3 separate regions of the Homo sapiens genome follow, and all the other regions are linked to region 1. The links come from fine-mapping of genetic effects on gene expression. A gene starts in region 1. Each other region holds a variant in brackets. All regions are shown on one strand. Distances are from middle to middle. Region 1 holds the start of CCNJL (cyclin J like). Region 2 overlaps FABP6 (fatty acid binding protein 6). Region 3 holds the start of FAM200C (family with sequence similarity 200 member C).

Evidence for each region. PIP is the estimated chance that this variant, and not a neighbour inherited with it, causes the effect. A credible set is the group of variants that fine-mapping cannot tell apart.
Region 2: its variant is the best candidate, but not a certain one, in a credible set for the expression of CCNJL in left ventricle (GTEx, PIP 0.61).
Region 3: its variant is the best candidate, but not a certain one, in a credible set for the expression of CCNJL in whole blood (TOPMed, PIP 0.52).

The regions. Positions count from the first base shown.
Region 1 is chr5:160,309,608-160,314,833 of GRCh38, forward strand. CCNJL (cyclin J like) reads right to left here and starts at 2,957. Exons shown (of 6, transcript NM_001308173.3): 1 at 2,757-2,957; 2 at 2,251-2,365. The coding sequence starts at 2,316. RefSeq lists silencers at 2,886-3,005, 3,116-3,175.
Region 2 is chr5:160,231,522-160,236,747 of GRCh38, forward strand. FABP6 (fatty acid binding protein 6) reads left to right here. Exons shown (of 4, transcript NM_001445.3): 2 at 577-752; 3 at 3,299-3,388. Among named protein-coding and RNA genes, the nearest start is that of FABP6, 4.6 kb to the left of the region's middle. RefSeq lists a silencer at 1,879-1,928. The variant C/T (reference allele first, on the strand shown) is at 3,226.
Region 3 is chr5:160,398,703-160,403,928 of GRCh38, forward strand. It overlaps FAM200C (family with sequence similarity 200 member C), which reads right to left and starts at 1,352. Exons shown (of 2, transcript NM_022090.5): 1 at 937-1,352. SLU7 (spliceosome associated SLU7) reads right to left here. Exons shown (of 16, transcript NM_006425.5): 16 at 2,939-4,762. The coding sequence ends at 4,583. RefSeq lists enhancers at 313-998, 892-1,041. The variant G/A (reference allele first, on the strand shown) is at 2,919.

The DNA.
Region 1 (5,226 bases):
CAAGAAAGGCGAGGCTAGTATGGCTACTAAGTTCCCCTATTCTTCACTCTTCTTGCCAAACTCCATGAAGCCAAATTTTTGAAGAAGCATTTTCTTCTTTGAAGTGGGAGAGGAAATAAAGTAAAGGAGAACAATAGCAGTATTTTGAGGAGGTGGGACATTATAACCAAAGGAACTTGGGATTTGTCCTAATAAGGCCAGCTTTAAGTCAAGGTTGACCTTGGCCATCAGTCCTTGGGTGAGCTTTCTATTTCTAACCTGCAAAACTGGGACAAACTCATCGTCTCTCCGAGGTGGGCAGCCCAATAGTAAACTCATACGGCACTATGACATGGCTATAGCAGTTCATGGAGCCTTTCTTGCTTCTTTGAGCAGCCGAAGGAACATTTAGGACATCCTCCCTTATGTATAAAAGGTTGGGCATTCTCAGGTAACTAAACAAATGGCATTTATTGCTCTTAGAAATCCTTCCCTCTAGAAAGGGGCAAATCAGGTAGAAGTCGTTCCTCCTAAGCTATGAGCAGAAATGACAACCACTTGAGTCTATGATAAACAAGGAAGCCCAATTTCCACGGCAGTCCTCACTAGCTCCATTCAGCCACCTCCTCCAGAAAAGGGCCAGGACCATACCCCTACCACTTTCCTTGCTTTTCAACTGAACCAACAAGACCTGGATTTCTTCTTGTCCAGATGCCTAGAATGTGCCACACGTTGGCCACTCTGTTCTGGGAAGAAGACCAAGGGAACAGATGAAAGCCACAGCCTTGCCAAGCAACGCAGGACAAAGACAGGTCAGCAGGTACAGAAAGAAAAGAAAAAGGCATTAATTGGACAGGAAGACAGCTACTCAATGAGGTAAAAACACTGAGTAGCTGGTGACCCTTTAAGCAGAACTCCTCCAGACACTCGGAGCAAATGCACTGACTGTGAAACCTGTGTGGGGGCTCAGGTACTGCACTAGGAAGACCTTTTCCTCCCTGTATTGGGCGCAGTAGTGTCCCCCCAAATGTCATGTTAATCTGGAACTTCAGAATGTGACCTTACTTGGAAATGGAGTCTTTTCAGATGTAATTAAATTATGATGACATCACATTGGATTAGGGTGGGTTCTACTCCAATGATCGGGTATCCTTGTAAGAAGAGAAAACAGACAGACAGATAGCACCATGTGACAGTGGAGGCAGAGACTGGAATGATGTACCTACAAGCCGAGGAATGCCAAGGATGACCAAGCACCAGCAAATTTAAGAAGGAAGAAGGAAAGATCCTTCTCTAGAGCCTTTTGAGAGTCATGGCCCTGCTAACACCTTGATCTGGGATCTTCAGCTTCCAGAGCTGAAATAAATTTCTGTTGCTTTAAGCCCTCCAGTTTGTGTGGTCCTTTGTAATGGCAGCCCTAGGAAACCAATCCATTCACTACTTCACACCTGTTCCCCAAGCCACCCCTTGCCAATCTCAGCCCAGGGACTGGAGGCAAGACACACAGGCCATGCCTCCAGCCCACCTGGACTCTTCCACCTTCCCAATGCCCCTCAGCCCTTCTCTCCTTGAGGGGAGGGGTGTGCAGGGATCACATTTCAGCTGCTCCCACCCACCTTCTGCCACAGGAGGCAAACCGGCAGGGGAGTTTTTGTTTTCTTCCCTCAGCCTCCCTGTTTTGTAGCCTCTTTCAATTATACAGGTGTTCCTTAAATTTCATTCGGTCCCATTCTAGATATACACATAGATACACGTATTTGGCCATAACCATGTATTCCCTGTACTACCACTTATCTTTATATAGAGTTACTACTTTTACTTAAATTTGTTTTAAAATAAACTGCGACATCATTATTACAATAAATGGAAAATCGCAAACGCAGAGCTTGCTAGATACATACACATTCTTAAATTACACATTAGAATGAATACACAATATTTTTTAAAGACCCCTTCACGTACGGTTTAAAATAACCTAGGGTGGCAATACTATAGGAAACACTGCCTTAGAGGTACAGTGGCTGTCTCTGACTAGTTGGCCCAGAGTTCTGAGCTCCTTATCAGAAAAACCAACTTCAATCTCTCCCATCTCCAGTCTCTAACCCCCGCCCCCCAATTCCGCTCAGACACTCCGGGAGAAGGTAAAGGGTAAGAGGAAAAAAAGGCACCCGGGAGTTCTGAGTTCCCACGCAGGCGACCTGAGAACACGAAGTCGAGACCGAAGGAGACTGTACCCAGTCTTGAGAGTGACAAGGGCAGGGAGGGACTGACCTTCTCGCGCAGGGTGCAGTGGACGTCCGAGGCGACGCGCCCTTCCCACCACGGCTCATCCATCATCGCGTACGCAGCGCCGCTATCCGAGGCTACCCGGCTCTCAGGGCGCACCCTGCGTGGACACGGGCAACTTCAGCGGCCAGAGCGTACCCCGGGCTCCGACCCCCGGTGTCCCTATCCTCTCTCGCCCCTGGCCCCGGGCCCCGGCGGGCGCCCCCTCCTGCGCCGCTCAGAGGAGCTGGAGGTCGCCTCTGGTCCGCGGAAGGCTGCGGTGCCCCCTCCCCTCTGCTCGCCGGACACGGGGCGATATGGAGCTGTGCAACAACTTGCAGAATTTTTATCTTCCCTTTTGCAAAAGTTGCAGAGAAAGTTGTCAACTCCGCTAGCTCGCTCGAGGCTGGGGCTCTGGCGGCGGCCACAGGCTCGCCGTCCCCAACTCCTCCCCCGCCGCCCAGCCTTTGTCCTGCTCCCACATCCTGCCCTCGAGCCGGGGCGAAACTCACGCATCCTCTCTGGGCGTGGGGGGCTGCGAGCGCCGGGCCCCTCCCAGTGCCGAGCCAGCCGTGCCCTCTGGTGCCTGCCGGCGGTTGGACCCTCGTCCGAGGCGCTCCGCACTCCCGACGGCCGCCTCCGCAGCCCGACTAGCCCCCGCCGTCGCCGCGCCCCTGCGTGCGCTCGGGTCCCGCCGCGGCTCGCAGGCTCCCGGCCGCCGGGGGCCTCCCTCCCTCGCTGGGGGAATTGGGGGCCGGGCCTCGCGCATGCGCTGCCGGCGCCCCCGCGCCCCGCGGGGCGGGGGGCTGGGAATTGGAGCCTTTCTTTGCCAGCTCTGGCTCCGCTTCCTGCCCGCCCTCCTCCCTCGCTTCGGCGGAAAGCTTCTCTCTCACCTTCGCTGAGGCTAGTGGTAGCCTTCTGGGCACCCCTCCGGCTTGCGCAGGGAGCAAAGGGACCGCGGCGCCACCTGCGCGCACCACGCGTGAAACGTGCGGACAGGACGCCCCCAGAAAGTTCTGCCTTCCGCGCGCACTGCTCTAGCCATCCTTACGTCGGTTCCACCTGTTTTTCTTTCTCTCTCTCTTTTTTTTTTTTTCCTGTTTTTGTTTTTTGTTTGTTCTCCTCTTCTTTGAAACCCGCCCTGCCATGGGGAGGTAGATTTCCAAACGGACAATTCCAGTGAAAGCTGCAGAAAAACCACCCTTGTTCACCCACGAGTCCCTAATTCTAAAGGAGCCTAAGTCACTGGTATTATTGTGCTCCTGCAGAATATGAACTATGCCTCACATTGGAGGAAAACCAGTCTTTTTTTGCCGGGTCCGGTGGATGGAAAACATTGTCTTTTTAATTCAATTGCTTGCTTTTGGAAAGTCATCCTTTTGAGTCAGCCCATCTGATGGCATAGCATTGGGCTATCCTTCTTGGCTGATTGATTTTTGTGATAGTTTTGGAGATTCACAAATTTGGAATCAAATCCACTTACCAACTGGGTGATTTTTGTCAAGTTCCTCAAACTCAGAGCCTCGTGTGTAAAATGGAAATAAAAGTTAAACCAACCTGCTGAAAATTAAAGGAGATAATGCGTGTAAAGGGATAATCACTACACCAGGTATTAAGTGAACACTCAGTAAACAACTGTGACTGAAGAGCCTTTAGTTTCTGACTGCTTTCCTGCACATAAAGACACACCTGGGAAAAAAAAATTAAATCAGCTTTGATAAGCTTCAATTGGACCTTGAAGAGCAGTTTTAATGTAAAACAAACGAACCATTTTAAAAGTGTAAGATACCTAAAAATAAACTGAATAAATGTGCAGGCTCTTAATGAAGACATTACAAAGGTTGAAACATAATAAAGAAGGCTTGAAGGAATAGAGGCACAAACACCAACTTAACCCAAATTACTCTATTTAATAAAATTTTAATGGTTGTGGGTAGATTGGAGGAGGGGGCACTTAACATGTTTTCTAACCTTCAAATGGGAGAATATCTGCGAGAAAAGCTAAGAAATTTATATTTTAAAAATGGGGGGATGGCGGGGCGCGGTGGCTCACGCCTGTAATCCCAACACTTTGGGAGGCCAAGGGCAGGCAGATCACCTGAGGTCAGGAGTTTGAGACCAAACTGGCTAACATGGTGAAACCCTGTTTCTACTAAAAATACAAAAAATTAGCCGAGTGTGGTGGTGCACGCCTGTAATCCCAGCTACTTGGTAGGCTGAGGCAGGAGAGTCACTTGCATCTGGGAGGCGGAGGTTGCAGTGAGCCGAGATCGTGCCACTGCACTCCAGCTTGGGCAACAAGAGTGAAACTCCGTCTCAACAAACAAACGAACAAAAAAACTGGGGGGACAGACCTGTATTATCAAATCTTAAAGCATATTGCAACACTATAGTTAAAACAGTGTAGTGTTCACACAAGAATGGATGGATTAAGCATCAGTGGAATAACTGAAAGTCTAGGAAAATTTAATATATTTAAAAATTCACTGTATGATAAATGTGGCATTTCACTTTGTTGGGACAAGTATAAACGGCTAAATTATTTAATAAATTAGGTTGGGGGAAAAAAGTAAAACTAAGGACTTGTTTAAATATCACCAAAATAAATATAAGAACTCAGAGAACTACAAACAAGCAAATCACAAGAGGATAAGAAGAAAACATACACGAATTATACGGAGGGGAAGGCCTAGATACTAAGACATGGGAAGAAACCAAAGGCAAGGTGAGTAGACAAATTTGAATAAATATGCAGGATCTAGATACATCAATTATCATTGCCAAAAAGGCAAACGACAAATTTGAGAAAATATTTTTAACAAATGTGACAAAAGGTTGATGCTACTTTCTAGACCTCTGATAAATCGGTATGTAAAACATTAACACCCTACGTGCAGAAATGGATGCAAGACATGAGTAGGTATGCCGTCAGAGAAGGAATTCATATGGATAGATGTTATTTTTAAAATGCTCATACTCCCT
Region 2 (5,226 bases), 78 kb before region 1:
TAGCCAGTATTACAGGCACCTGCCACCATGCCCAGATAATTTTTTTGTATTTTTAGTAGAGACAGGGTTTTACCATGTTAGCCAGGCTGGTCTCGAACTTCTGACCTTAAACGATCTGCCTGCCTCGGGCCCTCAAGGAGCTGGGATTACAGGCATGAACCACCATACCTGGTCTTGAAAGTCTCATTCATTCCAGAACTTCGCGAGCTTGGCAAGATTCAGTTATATTTATATTACTATCAGAAGCTTGGTTATTATTGATGAGCACCCACCATGTGCCAGGAGCTTCACAAACACACTCACATTGAATATAATTCTTGTAACAGCCTTTTGGGATGGGCCTTATTATCTCCATATTGTGGATGAATAGACTGAAGCTCAGAGAGATAGGGACTTTCCCCAGCCACATGGCTCACAGCACGTATTAGCTGTCTCAGGCACTGTGCTCTTAACCTGCAGGCTAGCCTATCATGCACAAGGGGGTAGGGCGGTGGGGGTGGGCAGGAAAGCTCTTTTCCCAAACCACAGGGTTAAAAGCAGCTCTTATATGGCTACTCTGCTTGTCCCCGGGTCCAGGGATCTCCAGCGATGTAATCGAAAAGGCCCGCAACTTCAAGATCGTCACGGAGGTGCAGCAGGATGGGCAGGACTTCACTTGGTCCCAGCACTACTCCGGGGGCCACACCATGACCAACAAGTTCACTGTTGGCAAGGAAAGCAACATACAGACAATGGGGGGCAAGACGTTCAAGGTGAGAGGCCACTGGCTGTCCCCCTCCTTCCCCAGGCCTCCATCTGACTTCTCCTTCTCAAACATGGCCTCCCCGCTCCCGAGCTGAGGCTTCTTTCTCCAGTTTGGCCTCCAGCATTAGGAGCTTGAGTTACTTGGCAATTTAATGCTCCTGATTTTTAATGGTCAAACATGGGCACTAAAACAATAAGAAAAATAGCTAATACTTGCTGGACACTTATTATAAGCTAGACACTTGCTGAATAGTTTTTCCATCTTAATGCAGTTAATCCTATGAAATTGCTACAATTACTCTCTCCAGATTGATCGGGGAGGCTAAATCATGAGATTAAAAAGCTTGCTGGCCAGGCACAGTGGCTCATGCCTGTAATCCCAGCACTTTGGGAGGCCGAGGTGGGTGGATGGCTCGAGGCCAGGATTTTGAGATTAGCCTGGCCAACATGGTGAAACCCCATCTCTACCAAAAATACAAAAATTAGCTGGACATAGTGGTGCATGCCTGTAATCCTGGCTACTCAGGAGGCTGAGGCAGGGGAATCGCTTGAATCCAGTAGGCAGAGGTTGCAGTGAGCTGAGATCATGCCACTGCACTCCAGCCTGGGCGACAGAGTGAGAGTCCATCACACAAAAAAATAAATAAATAAAAATAAAAAAAACCTTGCCTTAGTTACACAACAGGGGCAGGCCTTTACACCAGGCACTAGAGAGCATAAGTGTTTTTTTTTTTTTATTCGAGACTCACTCTGTCACCCAGGCTGGAGTGCAGTGTCATGATCTCGGCTCACTGCAACCTCTGCCTCCTGGGTTCAAGCGATTCTCCTGCCTCAGCCTCCTGAGTAGCTGGGATTACAGGCGTGCACCACCACATCTGGCTAATTTTTGTATTTTTAGCTGAGATAGGGTTTCATCATGTTGACCAGGCTGGTCTCAAACTCCTGACCTTGTGATCCGCCCACCTTGACCTCCTAAAGTGCTGGGATTACAGGTGTGAGCCACCGTGCCCAGCCATAAGTGCTTTTTTTATGCTGCCTCTCTGTGTAGCACAGAGATAAAGACACTGGGCCCTGGAGTGAGCCTTGGCTGGGTTTGAAACCATGATTTCCCACCAGCAATTGTAGGGCCTTGGGCAAGTCATTTCACTCCCCTGAGCCTCATATCTCTAGTATGCAAAAGGAGACTACATACAATCTCTAGCTCCAAGAGCTGTGGTGAAGATTAAACAAGACAGTGCATGAAAGCACCTGGCATGTTGCCTGCCACATAATGAATGCTAGAAGAAAAAATGCAGTCATTTGCTTTTGTTTTAGAAGTGAAGAAACTGGCCGGGCACGGTGGCTCACGCCTGTAATCCCAGCGCTTTGGGAAGCCAAGGCAGGCAGATCACGAGGTTAGGAGTTCAGGACCAGACTGGCCAATATGGTGAAACCCTGTCTCTACAAAAAATACAAAAATTAGCCAGGCGTGGTGGCCGGTGCCTGTAATCCCAGCTACTCGGGAGGCTGAGGCAGGAGATCGCTTGAACCCTGGAGGCGGAGGTTACAGTGAGCCGAGATCACACCATTGCACTCCAGCCTGGGCAACAGGGCGAGGCTCCGTCTCAAAAAAAGAAAAAAAAAAAAAGAAGTGAAGAAACCGAGGCTCAGGGAGACCAAGTAATGTGTCTAGGGCCTTGCAGCTAGAACATGGTGGGACCAGGGATTTGAACCCCAGCTATTTGCCTCTATCATTAGGCCTCTGGTGACCCATGTGGAGTTCTAATAATAGAAAAGGAGTCAGGTTGGCGGCAGCAGGGTAAAGCAAAAAAGGAGAGCAGATAAGCTGTAAGTCTGCCTTTCTTCATGGTCCAGAACACATAGCCCTCCTGTGCAAATAACTCACAATCTTCCTGTGCCCAGCTATCATCACCTCCACTGATAGAAAAATGTAAGTTATCTCACCATAACCTTTGCTTTGTCAGTACTGCACAAAACCCGCTTCAGCACACAGCATAAGCAACAGTCTATAAACTCTCCAGCAAGACTTTGTCTCCTTGCAGTCAGCTCCTCTCTTGCTGTCCTGCCCAGTGCACCCTTGCAACATATTTTCATACTTTCTCTAAGAAATCTGACTTTTTTTTTTTTTTTTTTTTTTACCTACAACTGTCTTGGTAAATTCATTTTTTTTTTTTTTTTTGAGACAGAGTCTTGCTCTGTTGCCCAGGCTGGAGCGCAGTGCCACGATCTCTGCTCACTGCAGCCTCTGCCTCCCGGGTTCAAGTGATTCTCACGCCTCAGCCTCCCAAGTAGCTGGGATTACAGGCATGAGCCACCACACCGGGCTACTTTTTGTATTTTTAGTAGAGACGGGGTTTCACCACGTTGGCCAGGCTGGTCTCGAACTCCTGACCTCAAGTGATCCGCCTGCCTCAGTCTCCCAAAGTGCTGGGATTATAGGCATAAGCCACCGTGCCTGGCCTTGGTAAATTCTTCTTACTG[C/T]CCGCGCCACCAGCCCCAGATAGTTGCCAATCACCTGCAACAACCCAGGCTTAATGTTGTGCTTCCATTCCAGGCCACTGTGCAGATGGAGGGCGGGAAGCTGGTGGTGAATTTCCCCAACTATCACCAGACCTCAGAGATCGTGGGTGACAAGCTGGTGGAGGTGAGTGTCATGCTGATTCCTGGGATGATTATTGGATATTTGTCTGCCTCTTGGCCACAGCCCCTCAGAAGTAGGCCTCTACGCAGCTGGCTTTACCAGCACTTCCCTTGTACCAGGCTCTATGCTGAGTGCTGGATGCACATGATGTCATTTGGTCTTCAAAATAACCCTGTTAGGTGGGGATTTTTATCTCCATTTGAGGAGACTGAAGCACAGGGATAAGTGAGGGAGCACACAGATTTGACGACAGAGCTGAGGTTTGATGCTAAGTAGCCTGACTGCAGCACTCACACTCAACCGCTTCTGGGACACGAGACTGGAAGCCCGGAAGATCCTTCCCAGAATATAAATAAAGGAGGTGGTCCAGGTGGGCTCCTCAAAGGACAGCCACCACTCCATTCCTTTTCCATGAGGGACATCAGGCCCCTTCTACCAGATCTTCTGATTTATCAAGAGAAGTTGGAAATTTGCACTTCCGTGTGAAATCTCCACACTATTAAATATTGGCAACTAATTAAAAAAATTCTGTAAATATTGGCAGGTCCCACACACACATCTGGGGACCCACTCCTCCTACACTGGAGGTGGTGCCCTGGGAGGCCCTTCCTCTCACTTCTGTTGCTTTCCCGTGGGTCTCCAAGTTTTCCCCAGGTGGAAGGAATGAACGTGAGGTTAAAAGGGAAAAGAAGGCATTTCCATACTTCATTCCCTCACTGTGAGCCTGTGACCTGGGCCAGAGACCCTCTGGGGTCCCGTGTAGGTCTAGAAAGGGCCCTTCCCTCCTCCCTGAAGCTCTCCAGCAGGGAAGACATGATGAGGGAGGCAGTGTTTGTGTGACCCCTTTGCTTCTCCTTCTTTGATCCTTCTCTCTCTCTCTCTCTCATTCTCGCTTTCTTGTGCCCACATCTCAAGCCCTGTCAAGAGGAAAGGAGCACACTGCCTCTCTCAGACACTGTGGTGTAAATGATTTACACCACAGACACTTATTTCACACAGCTCTGGAAGCAGGAAAGTACAAGATCAGGGTGCCAGCATGGTCAGGGGCTTATGAGGGCCCCCGTCCTGGTTTCTTCACATGGCAGGGAGACGTCATCTCTCTCATGTCTGTTTTTTTTTTTTTTTTCGAAACAGAGTCTTGCTCTGTTGTCCAGGCTGGAGTTCAGTGGCATGATCTTGGCTCACTGCAACCTCCGCCCTCAGGTTCAAGCAATTCTCCTTCCTCAGCCTCCCCAAGTAGCTGGGATTACAGGAGCCCACCATCACATCTGGCTAATTTTTGTATTTTTAGTAGAGACAGGGTTTCACCATGTTGGCCAGGCTGGTCTCGAACTCCTGACCTCAAGTGATCTGCCCACCCTGGTCTCCCAAAGTGCTGGGATTACAGGTGTGAGCCACTGCACCAGGCCTTGTGTCTGTTGTTATGAGGGCACTAATCCTTCATGGGGACTCCACTCTCATAACTTAATTACCCCCTAAAGGTCCTATCTCCAAATACCATCACACTGGGGCTTTGACCTTTATCATATGGGTTTGGTGGGGGGACACACGCGCAGTCCATAAGATGGCCCAAGAGGTTCCGTGCCCTCCCATTATACTTATTTTACAGAGCAGCATTACAAGGCTCAGAGACAGCAAGGGACTTGGCCGTGGCCACACAACTAGTACATGCAGAGGCAGATCTCATCTGCTGACTTCTAGACTAGGCCCCCTGCCTCTTCTGCCCAGGCCCACGGGTCTTTTTATCCCCCTTTAACATTTTTGTTTAAATAATCTAAAAATTATCTGGGTGTGGTGGCTCAAGCTTCTAATCCCAGCACTTTGGGAGGCTGAGGCAAGTG
Region 3 (5,226 bases), 89 kb after region 1:
ACAGGTGGCAAGAATTTTCAAGGGCCTCAAAGATGAACTTACTGCCCAAGAGGCTTGTGTTTTAGAACCTCACAATTTGCACTTGCGCTTTTGTGGTATTTAGGAATTACAATATCCTAAAAAACGTAAACATTAAAAAGCATCATGATAAGGAGATATTGTTAAACAGGCATGATAATGGTATTGTGGTTGTGTTTTTAAAAAGTCCTCATTTGTTAGATACAGACAATTATTTACAAGTGAAATAAGATGTCTGGGATTCCTTTGAAATACGTACTTCAGCACACTCACAAACATGCACAAAGCGGGGTGGAGATAAAAGAAATGACTGGCCTTAAGTTGGTAACTCTTGAAGCTGGATGATGGGTATACATCATTACACCGTTCTATTTTAATGTATTTTGGAAACTTTCCATAATAAAAAGATAAAAAGCATTATCTTAAGATAGATATCACTCATTTTAAGCATGATTCTTTTGAGAGATTATCTTCAGATGCTTAATGAAAGATCTGATATAACAAAGTAAAATGTTTTTGCAAGTTTATGAAGGGTAGATATGAAAAAGTATTACAAATGAGAAAAATCAGTTAAAAGTGAACACTCACAAAACAAATATTTAGGGAATGCTAATATATATATATTCCAGCAGTGAAAACACCAAAGTGCAGCTGTAAACCTAAAACTCCAAACCAAATACAATTCAACTTCTTTCTAGCCACTGCGTATGCAAGATCATGATAGGCGCAGGTGTCTGGGGAGGCAGAGCATTTAACCATTACATTTTACAGTTAAAATCAATAGCCAGGAGAATGGGGGCAGGAACTTGGTGGCTGGGCAGACGCTCCAGGGGCAAACGCCTGGGATCGTGGCTTTGTCACTTACAGGATGGGACCTTTCCAAGCCTCAGTTCCTCCAGAGGGGATAACAGTACCTACCTTACAGGGTTGTTAGGAGATTTAATTATAAGAATGCATGCAAATAACAAGCAGCTCTTAACTGATAGGACCTGATGGTGTTACTGTTAAGGACGGAGATTTTTACAGCCTCCCGGGTGAGATAAGAACGCCAGCTGCTAGGAAAAAAAAAAAAAAGACTCAGCGCGGTCTCCGCCCGCCCGTCTCCAAGCCTGAGGCGCAGGCCTATGGGATGCACGGGCTTCTTTTAGGCGCCCGTTTCAGGCTCCAGTCCCACTCTCCGCTCAGCCTAGGGCCCAGCCTCTGGCCGTCGGAACCAGTAGAGACGGCGGTTCCTCGGGTCCAACCCCCGGGCAGGAATCTGCGGTGCGCCTGGAGAGAGAAGCATCCGCAACAACCTCCGCCTCAGCCAGGCCCGGGTTCCATCCGGGTTCTCCAGGGTGCTTCCCGCCCGCAAACTGGGAGAGGCGTCTCCCACACGCAGGCGCAGTAGCAAAGGGCTGTGGGATGGGCTGGCTGGCTTGAGTATTGAGCATGCGCGCTAGCCCTTCCCAATTTTTTTTTTAAGATTGTGTACGTGGAACAAGAAATCGTTTGTTTATTGTGTCTGCCAGAGAGGATGAACTGTACAATTTCAGGAATGGAAGGGGCTGTAAACTCCACATAGTTCTTTTTAACATGCAGAGCACTTAAACTTTTATATTGTGTCGGGCTTTGAGCTTGGAGATAAAACGCCTGATAATTGCCATGTTCCATGTGGAATAAATGAGAGAAAAAGAGAAGGAAGCTCATTGTAATTTCAGATTAGACATTTCAGCAGTGGAGGATGAGCTTCCATAGCTTGTGTACTGTTGCCTATGCAAGCTGATCCCACTTTCCGTAAGTGGGAGCATAGGGATGAATTTCCATGTCATCATCATATATCTGAAATATTTTTATTTTAAATTCTTTCAACAACATGATTTCAAAGAAATAAACCCATATTAGAGAGGTTTTAGAGAAAAATCCCAAGTAGAAACTAGGAAACGTTGTTGAAAGAAACCGGAATATAGCCCTTTCCTGTTTGGGGGTCTTTCCAGAATTCTTATAAACTTAATGAGTTTACTCATTTTTGTACAATCTTGTTAGAAGCATTCCATAAGACTAGTGTGTGTGAGGAGTGGTGGGGCGTCAACGAATGTGGGCCAGATACATCATTTTCAGGTGTTAAGGGTGAGCCTGGTAAATATTGACGGGCTGCTGAAGTTTTTTGTGGATGGAAGAAACTGCTAAAGACCAGCCTTGTTGGTCAAGAAATTAGGGCCTTCAATACTAGAGAAAGGGGTAGGCTTCAGAATCCCACAGCTAGCTTCATGTCCTGACTCCAACGGTTAGGATTTGTGCAGGTTACTTGGAGTTAATTCCATGTGCTTTTTGTAAAACTTACATATCATCCATTACCCCATGAAATTCTTTTGAGGAAGGAGATAACATTATGACAATTACAGTACATAATTCTCGCACTCAAAAGGCAGCTATTATTGAGATAATAAAATCAAAGCTCAATCTGAGTAATGTCCTAGGCATTATGTTTTTTTCTTTTTTTTTTTTTTTTTTTTTTGAGACAGGGTCTCATTCTGTTGCCCAGGCTGGAGAGCAGTGGCGCAATCTCAGCTCACTGTAACTTCTTGAACCGGGTTCAAGCAATTCTCATGCCTCAGCCTCCTGAGTAGCTGGGATTATAGGCGTGTGCCACCATGCCCAGCTAATTTTCGTATTTTTCATAGAGACAGGGCTCTGCTATGTTGGCCAGGCTGGCTAGGCATTACTTTTCCAAAATAAAACAGAAGACATGATTCTGGATATTACAGAATTCTTCCTAAATCTAAGTAAACCAGGCCTCATAGAAGAGGGAAAGAGGTCCAGAAAGGTTAGGTGACAAGATGCTGAAATTTTCTTAAACTCACAGAAGCTAATCCAGGTTCCCCTCCCTGTCCCATAAACAACTTTTCTGCCAAATATTA[G/A]AAATAATGCTACAAACCACTCACAGTTAAGTATTGTCATTTATGTATCTTTAACAAAAGATAAAATACAAAACGGACACAACATCAGCCTTTATGTTGAACCACCCTGTTTAGGTAGGAAAATGAACATTGTTTTTCATTCTTAAAGTAAATAGGAATTAAATCTATTTGCATTGCTGTTTAATTTCATACCAATCTAAAGCTCGACACTATGTATATCCAAAGTACTTGACAATTTGACTCAGTTACTCACACCACTGTTTCTGAGATGCTGACTTAATGCAGTATCCTACAGGTGGTTTTTGGTAGTTTAGAAAAGCCAGTGAGTGGGCTGTTAAAAGTTGATATACTGATGTCAGAGGTTTTGTTAGGCTGTTTTCACTGATTCTACTGTCAGTATTATCTTCACAGTGTTCTGAGAAGAGGCTTCAGGATCATGGCAATCTATTACTAATATCCCTAGAAGCTATCCTTATAATTCTTTCAATAAACCAACTTCAGGTTTTGTTTTTTTGCAAATTTTACAAACAAAGTAACAGCTGCTGGCTATAAATATTAGGATATTCTACAATTTAAAAAATCTAATATTCATGATTGTTACATAGGGGCAATCACAATGAAAACAAACGGTAATGTAAACCATATCCTCTATGATAAAGGAAAGGATTTCTACACCTAGACTTATGTCCAGAATGGTAAAAGACCTACTACTGATCAGTCAATATTGACCCAATGATGAGAAAATAGTTGTTTTCCATTCAAAGACTAACACATTTAGTCTACTCCAGAGGCCAAGGAAGAGAGAATCGCTTGAGCCCAAGACTGCAGGGCATTATGACTTTGTCTGTGAAAAGCCACTGCTCTCTAGCCTGGGCAACATAGCAAGATCCTGTCTCTAAAAAAAATAAAAATAAATGTAGTCACAGAGTTGCTAGTAATTATTTAAAAAAACAAAGCCCTGTTTTTTTCTCAAAACCAAGGTGTGCTAATACTAAATATAGGGCCACAAAAATCGAAGCAATAAAGTTTGAAGCTTAATAAATACAGAGAAAGAGACATTCTTAATAGGTAGAGAGCCAAGGCTTTTTTACATGACTCACATAAAACTGGAAATAGGCCAGGCGCGGTGGCTCACGCCTGTAATCTCAGCACTTTGGGAGGCTGAGGCGGGTGGATCACAAGGTCAGGAGATCGAGACCATCCTGGCTAACACGATGAAACCGTCTCTACTAAAAATACAAAAAATTAGCTGAGCATGGTGGCGGGCGCCTGTAGTCCCAACTACTAGGGAGGCTGAGGCAGGAGAATGGCGTGAACCTGGGAGGTGGAGCTTGCAGTGAGCCGAGATCGCGCCACCGCACTTCAGCCTGGGCGACAGAGCAAGACTCCGTCTCAAAAAAAAAAATAAATAAATAAAAAAAACTGGAAATAAAATCTTAATCCAATTTTAAATTCTATTCCCAAAAGCACACTTCATGTGCCTCTTCTTCTTTTCTTGTTTCCTCAGTATGGAAAGGAGTGAACTTACTGTGAGGCATCTGAAATATTTATTAAAGCCAGGCAGCAAGAAGAATAAACAAGGATTTTTCTATCTACAATCATCAATAAGAAGCTGAAAAGAATGTATCAGCTGCATCTATCTTGGATGGTCTTCTGACTAGTTGCTACTGTCCAAGGAAAGAGGCCATGGGGTCATCTGGCCTCTGACGTTTCATTCTATATGCCTCCATTTCCTCTTCAGTAGGTTCTCGAGTTTCATACATGCTATTGTAAGGCCGCTTCCTCTCATCAATCTGCATGGTCTCCTTGACATGAAGAAGGCGGGCCTCCTCTGCGTTCAGTGCCTATAGTGAGAGGAATAAAATGTGTATCACAGCTCTACATCAGATGTCTTTTCTTCAAAAGTGGCAGAGTACCAACACACCCCACTGAATATGAACTGCTCTATCAAAAACGCAGATTGCCTGAAAGAGCTTTGGAGTCAGCCCTTCTACTGTCAAGCTACAACTAATCACTATTTGGCTTATATGATATTTTTATACAGCACAAAACATTCTATAACATTTTAAATCAATGTTGAAGAAATTTTATTTAATAACAAAAATTAAATGAGGTTCACTTTACTTATACAAGCTCACAAATGATGCTTCTGGTAGAGACTACAATTCTGACTTTTCTCAAGGACTTGCCAAAACTTACAAACTACGGAGCTAGAAGGCAATTCTTTCCGGTCAACATGCCAATAACTCTAAAATGCTTTAGAATGCACATTTCTTCTGTCCATTAGTCATAATTACTAAATACTCCA